Linked DNA regions of Homo sapiens: region 2 is linked to region 1. Evidence: fine-mapped expression QTL. A gene starts in region 1. The other region holds a variant in brackets. All regions are shown on one strand. Distances are from middle to middle. Region 1 holds the start of GPR155 (G protein-coupled receptor 155). Region 2 overlaps WIPF1 (WAS/WASL interacting protein family member 1).

The links. PIP is the estimated chance that this variant, and not a neighbour inherited with it, causes the effect. A credible set is the group of variants that fine-mapping cannot tell apart.
Region 2: its variant is the best candidate, but not a certain one, in a credible set for the expression of GPR155 in whole blood (INTERVAL, PIP 0.60).

Annotation. Positions count from the first base shown.
Region 1 is chr2:174,484,409-174,488,802 of GRCh38, reverse strand. GPR155 (G protein-coupled receptor 155) reads left to right here and starts at 1,774. Exons shown (of 16, transcript NM_152529.7): 1 at 1,774-1,930. It overlaps GPR155-DT (GPR155 divergent transcript), which reads right to left and starts at 1,415. Exons shown (of 3, transcript NR_183819.1): 1 at 1,387-1,415; 2 at 1-768. RefSeq lists silencers at 1,634-1,813, 2,077-2,259 and an enhancer at 2,154-2,223.
Region 2 is chr2:174,557,605-174,561,998 of GRCh38, reverse strand. It overlaps WIPF1 (WAS/WASL interacting protein family member 1), which reads left to right. Exons shown (of 8, transcript NM_001375834.1): 8 at 1-2,425. It also overlaps the pseudogene RNU6-5P. Among named protein-coding and RNA genes, the nearest start is that of WIPF1-AS1, 15 kb to the left of the region's middle. The variant C/A (reference allele first, on the strand shown) is at 1,769.

The DNA.
Region 1 (4,394 bases):
ATTTAGATCTTCAATTTTTTTTTTAAGTAGTCAGGTTCAAGGGAAACAAAGAAGGCAGTTAAAAGTGAGGAAGACAGAGAACAAAGGAGAAGCAAAGAGAACTGGAGCAGGATCCATGCCTTTTATAGCTTTAATTTCTGCTCATTTTTCCTGCTAAGTTTCAGATCCTTTAACCTACCCTTAGCTTACTGTAATTTTTCTTAATAAGCCACACAATTTTGTATCTTTGCACTAAGATGGCCGAGATGATAGGAAGACACGGAAATTGCCATACAGAAATGTTTAAGATGCAAAGCAAGATAAAAGGTTGTAAACAAATGCTTGTAGATATCTTAAGTGGAAACATATATAAATATTTTAAAATTTGAAATAATTTTTATTTCAAAAGGCTAACTCAATTGCAGGATTTCTTCAGGTTTCAAAGTGGAGCACCATATTTGGGATACTATATATAGGTTTGTTGTCTGATGCCCATGGCAAGTTAATACACTGGGACACCAGGTTGCAGAAGAGAAAGAGGTTTAATCATAGGGCCACCAAACACAGATAGGAGGAAACCTCAAATTCGTCTCCAGGAGGACTTTGAGTCTCAGGTTCTTAAGGGTTTTAGAGTGGTCCCAAGTGTGGAGATCATTAATTGGCTGAAGAGTACAGGGCGAAGTCATGGGACAGCGAGATGAAGAAGCTGTATTCTCATGCTGATTCCCTTCTTCTGTGGCAGGGGTCTTCAAGCTGGCTGGCATCAGCTGTTTCGCTGGAATTTGGCGTCTGAAAAACATTTTAAGCAATTCTTAAAAAGCCTTACGACTCTTAACATCAGAAAGCCTATCTATAGGGACAACGGGATACAAATGTACTATCTAGCTCTACCCGACTTTCGGGTTACAAGGAAGTGGGTCAAAGTGTAGCCTGATTAATGCTTAATTATATTTTTGTCCAGAATTCTTATAAACCCTGTGAGGATAGTTTCAATACCTTTATTTCAAGAAGCTTTGGAAGTTTTCCATCAATGTAACCAGTTTCAGTATACTGAGTGGACATGCATGTAGTTCCCCACCCCCACCCCACCCCCGTACCGCAATAGAATAGAAGCAGTCATGGACGGGGCCCAGATTCTAAAACAAGCTCAGGGCTAAGGGTTTACATTTTAATCTCTTATGTAGGAACGTCAAGGTCACACTGCCTTGGTGAAGGTGGAAGGCAGGATTTTGACCCAGGTCTGATTCTAAGCCCTTGCTTTAAAACTCTATGCTATAAAAAGTCCTGGGCTAACCGGGAGCGAAACTGGCAGATCACACGAGGTTGAGGTTAAGCGGAAAGACAAGTCTGCTCTGCGTCTGTACTTGGGAAGAGGAAAAAAAACTGGACATCCCCCACGGCGGCTACCATTTTGTGGGAGCAGGGAAGCCGGAAGTCCCGCCCCGGAGGATCGCGGCTGGGAGGCTCCCAGCCGGCAGGGCGGGGCCGGGTACCCTGGGGCTCCGAGGCTGGAGGAGGGGGCGGGGACTGAAGGCGGGGTTGGGGAACGTGTGGCTCGGAGGCCCGAGGCTGTGGGTGGGGCCTGAGGGCGGGACGGAGACTCTGGGCTCAAGGCTCCTGGAAATGGGCGGGGCTCGAGGGCGGGAAGCGGCCCGTCTTGCTGGAAGTTCGGGGCTGGGGGCGGGGTCTGAAGGCGGGGCTGGGAGGGAGCGGGGCCTGAAGGCGGGGCGGGGGCGGGGCCTCGCGGCCGGCGAGGGGCTGAGCTGACAGGGCCGCATCGGCTTACCCCACCTTACTTTATCGGAACGTGCCTAAGCTGCTGCAGCTGGCACCCGGTTGCGCTCGGCGAAGAGGGCTGGGGGCGGGAGATGACGGTGGTCTTCTCCCTGCTTGGCACCCTGCGAGCACCAGCTCCCTTCTCCTCGCCACTCCAAGGTTGCAGACGAAGCAGGTGAGAGGGGCCCCTGGAGCGCGGACCTGCTGGGTCCTGGTTCTCCCTTGCGGGCACGGGGTACCCCTGCCTCTGCCCCTCAGGCCTGGGCACGTGGGCAGCCGCCGACCCTCTGCGCCCTGGCCCCGCGGCCCGTTGTCTGGACCTGCTGTCTCTGCCCCGCAGCGCCTGCCTGTGGAACGTGTGAGATCACCCGGGAAGGCTCGCGCGGGGGAGGGGGTGTCTCGTCCCCTCCGGAGACAGAACTGCCATCCCTAGTTTGGGAAGCTCCTCACTGCACGGGCGTCCACCCTGTCTTTCTTAGACTCTTCCCTTTATCCCGAGGGTACCCTCAGTATCTGGCCCTTCCGAAGGCTTCTGCCCAGGCACCTGGAGCACTGCGCCAAATTTTCTCCCTTACCCGTTTTTGGGGTATGTTAGTTACCATGACGTTGTGACTCCCGTGCCCTGGGAAGACTAGCGACCACCTTTTTCTTACGCCAGGCAAAGACCCCTGGCTGCCTTTCCACTTCCACAGCTGCCTTCCCAGGGGTTGGCTGGCAGCTGCTCTCCGAGCAGCCTATTCGGTTAGGAACTCTCTGCGCCCCTTATCTTGGAGGGCCACAGTCTGTCCCTGCAGACGAGGCAAGGAGGCAGTGCTCAGCGCTCCCTACCCTGGGTCTCTAGGGAGGACATTTGGCGCCCTGCAAGTAGGTAGGAGTGGGTGAATGGTGCGACTATTAATGTTGAAGAGTGCTCTAATAGTACCACACTGTATTACACTTATCCCACGGGATAAAGGATGTTGGATGTTTGAGAAATAGCCTGAGAGTTTAAAGCTTTCTCTATGAAGTTAGTCAACCCTCGCCTTCCCCCCGCATTTTCACTTAATAGCAGTTATTTACAGTATCAGTGGTTCGTTTATGTGATCTAAGCCAAATGTGATGTGGCTAGAAGCGGTTTGTAAGTACAGTAGCATTTCTTCAGTTCGTGCCTCAGCGAGTGGTCTTTTACTGTGAACGTGTTTGTTCTGTAACAAGCTTTGTTTTTATAGATAAAAAGGCTGGATGTAATTTTTTTTTTAAAACTTCCCTTGCTGTGGTTCCTGTTCATTTTAAAATATGCTTTAGAAAGCATATTATCTTCCCGTTTAAAAAAGATTAGGATGAAATGAAACTTTTAAAGTCATTTTGATTATTTTGACTTTACCTCAGCAGGTATTTCTTTTATAATACTGAGAAACGTTAAAAGAAACCTCATGGGGAGGGGCAGATTGCTTTTTTTTTTTTTTTTTCTTGAGACGGAGTCTTGCTCTGTTGCTCAGGCTGGAGGGCAATGGCAGGATCTCGGCTCACTGCAACCTCTGCCTCCCGGGTGCAAGAGATTCTCCTGCCTCAGCTTCCCGAGTAGCTGGGATTACAGGCATCTGCCACCAAGCCCGGCTAATTTTTGTCTTTTTAGTAGAGACAGGGTTTCACCATGCTGGCCAGGCTGGTCTCCAACTCCCGACCTCAGGTGATCCGCCCGCCTCGACCTCCCAGAGTGCTGGGATTACAGGCGTGAGCCACTGCGCCCGGCCCTTTTTTTTGTTTTGTTTTTTTGTTTTTTAATTTTTCAACGAATTGAAAGTTAATCTTGGACATTGCTACAACTATTTGACCATCACCCTGAGAAAAATGAAGAGCTCTGCCTTCACTGTTAACCATTTACTATCAAACCAAATTAAATTCAACTTATCTTAATTGTTTGGTATAAAACAAAAACTGATAAATTTATGACGCATCCCATCCCTCTTTTTTTAGTTGGTGGATCTTTTACCAGTTATGTTTGAAGAACTAACATGTTTACTTTTTTATCATTATTAGTAGTAAGACAACAGTTCCTAATAGCAATTGCTGCCGTTTTTTGAAGGCCTACTCTGTGATAAGCTGTATATAAAATATTCTATCCACACAATATCCCTCTAAGGAGGTCTTTGTTTGAGACAGGGTCTTACTCAGGCTGGAGTGCAGTGGTGTGATCATGGCTCACTGCAGAGACCTCCTAGGCTCAGGTGATCCTCCCACCTCAGCCTCCCAGGTAGCTGGGACAACAGGCACGCATGACTAAGCTCAGCTAATTTTTTGTAGAGACTAAGGTTTTGCCATGTTGGCCAGGCTGGTCTGAAACTCCTGGGCTCACACAGTCCACCTGCCTGGGCCTCTCAAAATGCTGGGATTACAGGCGTGAGCTGCTATGACTGATCCCTATAGGGAGGTTTTTACTCTCATTTTACAGTTGAGGAAACAAAGGTTCAGAAAGACTAAGTAACTTATGAGTTGATAAACCATAAAGCTCAGAATCTGTTTGACTCTCCACTGAACTTCTGCTAGTTTAAACTGTTGGTTAAAAAATATTATTGGAATGCCTTGACATGCTCGTGTTGTACAAGTAAGGGCTTATAAGCAGAATGAGTTATTAATACTCTAGGCACTTTTGAAAGTGA
Region 2 (4,394 bases), 73 kb before region 1:
TACAATTTTTACATTTCTAATATATTTTAAACAAGTGAAGTTAATATGCATCCAAAATATTTCAACCTGTAATCAACATAAAATTTTAATGAGATATTTTATATTATTTTTTGGTACTGAATCTTCAAAATCCAGAGTGTATTTTACACTTACCGCACATCTCCATTCAGACTAGTCACATTTTTAAGTGCTCAGTAGCCACATGTGGCTGGTGGCTACTGGATTAGACAGCACGAGTCTGGAAGATGGAAGCTAGTGCAGAAACCTCTTGTTTAAAAAACAAAAAAGGCAAGATGGGCTTGAGCGATTCAAGAGGCAACTAAAAATAAAATTAGGACCCAGCACCTTGTTTGACACACAGTTTGACCTTCGATTTTCCTCCCTTAACTTCCCTCTTCCCTTAATATCTGTATACAAGTGTTGCTTCAAAGTACCAAGGTCAGAAATTGATTGAGTACGGTTTACTAAAGTCATGTGGAATAAAGCCATTGGAAACAAATGGAAAGCCTGTCGGGACTTCTGGGCTCAGAACCAGCTGGCTCACGCACTCCACTTGTCAGCTGGACTTCTGCCTTGTGAAATGGAAGCAGCCTTTGTTCCTTTCTGGCTGAGCAAGCTCCTGAGGCTGGGAGAGACTAGGAAGGCTTGGTAGGAGGGGAAAAAAGTCAGGAAAATATATCAAATCAGAAACATGGAAGAAGAAGGGAACCGATTTGAGTTGGTGGGCAAAACTCTAAAAATCTAAATCTGATGCTTATGTAAGGGTTGAGCGAATTAGGGAGATTGCTAGTGGAAATTGGAGGGAATTTGTTTTGCATCATTTGTCTAGGATCTATGCAAATATAGCTCCACTAAAGGACCATAGGGAAGAGCCAGCCTTGCCTTTTCTTATATGATTTTGTTTACAAAATTTTACTGGGACTTTTAAATCTAGCTATAGAGTTGGGAAAAAATATTTCCACTTAGATATTTTACATGGTTTTGTTTAAAATTACCATTACTTGTTTTTTAAAAACACATGACCACATATGTATATGTATATCTACCTAAACATTGTATCATGGTTTCAGTATGTTATTCATGTATTACTGGGAGATGCTACCAAGAAACCAACCCAAAGAAAATTCTGAAAAATACATTTCTATTTATAGAATAAATGTTTCATTTATATAAAAGCAAAAGAACTTAGAGTTCTAATAAATGGGATGTCTAATAAATTATGAAGTTACTGATTTGAATATATTATATTTCTATAACTTCCTTGCCAAAGTCCTGATTTAGTACATTAGAGAACCTGTGTTTCCTCTCTCCTCTACCATTCATCTCTCTTCCATACAGTCATTTGGGCTTTTTACTCAAAGAGAATCAAGAAATAATAAGGTATAACAAGCTTGGCAAAGTGTTGGCTTTTTAAAAAAAAATTTTTTTAATCTCTAGCAGTTTGGTAATTTAGCAGCATCATTTATTTGGGATTCTTTTATCTGATTTCAACAGTGAAAAACATCCCTATGATAAAGCCTAATGACCCATTTCACAAAAGATGGAATTTGCCCTTCCTAGAAAATATGACGGAGAAAAGTCTGACTCAGAGAAAGTGGGTCTGAATTTTATAAGGGGTAGTAAGAATTGGACAATTCCTTTGCATATCTGAACTTGGCAGGTACCGTTCTAAATCTGAAACAGGGTGATAGCTCAAAGTTGCCATTCATCCAGAATAGATTGTTTTAGAATGTAGTGTTTAAGTGACTGTTTCATTAATACACCTACA[C/A]CCTTTCTTTGAAAGTTTGCAACCTAATTGCATCTAAAACTATGAATAAGTTCTGTGGTAAAATCTTAAACTATGGAAAATTACAAAAATGAATTTTTCTTCCCTGAAATCAGAGCTTACATGTGTGTTTTTTTATAACATTTTCAGATAAATGTATTCAACATGTAATACAGTATTTTAACATTCACCTCTTATTTTATATTGAAATGTATTACAGTATTAAAACTCAGTGTTCAGTATTTATTTCACTATGCATTTTATTTAGTAAAAGCCAGGAGAAATGTTTAATCCAATGGTGCCTTACTTTGTGATTTAAAAGAAATCAACTTTTTTTTATGTCTAAGTAGTAGATTATTTGCATATTTGTAAAAACTGTTAGGTCTTTATATTTTAAAGTGTAATACCAGTTTTGTTATTTTAGTAGCAGAAATGGGATGATTGTTAAAGTTCCCCAAAAATGTTGGCATGAAATTAATTTTTCCCTCCTTATAGTCAAGGACCGTAGAGGAAGAAAAACTTTTTTTTCATACCATGCACTATGTAAACAGACACATTTTGCTATCTGTGTCATCAGGATAGTGTAAGTGGTAGGGTAGAGACTACCCTAGACATCTGCATCTTTGTAAGTTAGCCAGACAATAAAGAAAAGCAGAATGATATGGTGTCAACTGGTGGTTTTTCTTTTAAGTATTGTTTATGTAAATATAAACAAAAAAACAAGTGTCTGTTTTCGGTTTTAAACTGTGGAAAAGAAAGACAAACAAAAAAAGGTTTGTATAAGTAAGTAAATATTCATTGTACCTACTTGCTAATCCCATCTTCGTTTTTTCCGAGAATCTGCATCTTAGTCAAAATCTGTTTACTTGAGGCAGATGTTTGTACTAGGAGGTAAAGATGGATGGCTGAAGCAATGGAAGATGAAATTACAAAGACTGGCATGGATACTGATAAATACAGGAAAGGCCAATGGGAATTTAGGAGTCTGATAACTTTCTTAATTATCTGCTGTATGTATACATACAGATCTCAATATAGAAGAATGGCTAAGAGCTTAGGAAGACCTGGCTCCGTGTCTTACTTGCAAGTCACTTCACTAAACCTGTTTCCTTATCTATAAGGTGAGGAACTATCTTATAGCATTAATATATGCATTAAATGAGATAATGCACTCAGCATTTAGCCTTAGTGTAAGCACTCAATAAGGAGTAGCCACTATTAGTGTGAAGTAGGAAACAAATATTTATATAATGATCCCAAATTAACTGGAGCCAAATCCACTAGAAGGGGATCTACTAGTGTACTTTTAAAGGAAAGGAGCACTAGCTCCTAGATTGAAAAAATATCCATATCAGAAATGCAAAGCAACTTCTACATAAGGGTCACCTCACCTACCATCCTCCCTGTACCTCCAGGCCTGGAAAATGAAATTTTACCGTGCTTCAGTCATCAGAGAAGTATTATTAGGTTCAGTATGAAATAACAGAAATTAAGAGCCAGAACTTCGCAGATGGGGCAACCTTAGAATTTATGATCCACAATGGAACATTTTTGAGAGTGGAAGGGGTGCTAATAGTTGCAGTGGCAAAGCAGGTATAAGTCTGGGTTGCCTTGGAAAATGGGGCCGTGTGGTCACCCCACTCAGAGGTCATCCAGTCCAAACGTCTGGGCTTACAGATGGGCAATTTAAGGCCCTAAATGATGTGACTTCTCACTGTACTGTCCCATCTTCATAGTCTTTCCTGCCCCTCTCTCTATCACTGTTTTATGTGTCTTTCACATTGGCTGGAAAGAACAGGCCAAATGAGAGGTTACAGCGTCACAGCAAAAGCCGTGCACTCACAAATCTGCGTTTGGATTCTGGCTCTGCCACTTGCTCCCTGTGAGGCCATAGACAAATTATTTAAGTCTGAGTTCTAGCTTCCTCAAGTGCAAAATGGTTACAAAGCTTAAATAATACACATCCAGAAGCTTTGTAGGTGGTTTATTGAAAAAAAATAAATTTTAAAATAAATAAGTAAATATGCAAAACTCAAGCAAGATACCTGGCATATGTTAGGCACTCAATGAAAATTAACTCCATTTCATTTCTTAATCATTTTGCCATCAAACCTAGGCCATATTCATGACAGAATTCTCAAACGCAAAGAAGTCTTGACAAGTGCTCGCTTCGGCAGCACATATACTAAAATTGGAACGATACAGAGAAGATTAGCATGGCCCCTGCGCAAGGATGACACGCAAATTCGTGAAGCGTTCCATATTTTTAGATATACCTAATGCTAGATGACGAGTTAGTGGGTGCAGCACACCAGCATGGCACATGTATACATATGTAACTAACCTGCACATTGTGCACATGTACCCTAAAACTTAAAGTATAATAATAATAAATAAATAAATAAATAAAGAAGTCTTGACAAAATTCAGTTGCAGAATCTTTAGGAATAAAAATTGCTTTAAGTCTGGCCTCGTTTGTTCAAAGTGGAATTATTTATTTGATTCATTCATTTAATAAGTTTTTATTGAGCACTTACTGTTTACCAGCTTCACCACAAATGACCTATTAACTGGTATCCCCACCGTGACTGTAGTGGTCAAGTGATCTCTGAGTGGCAGGTAAGGAGGC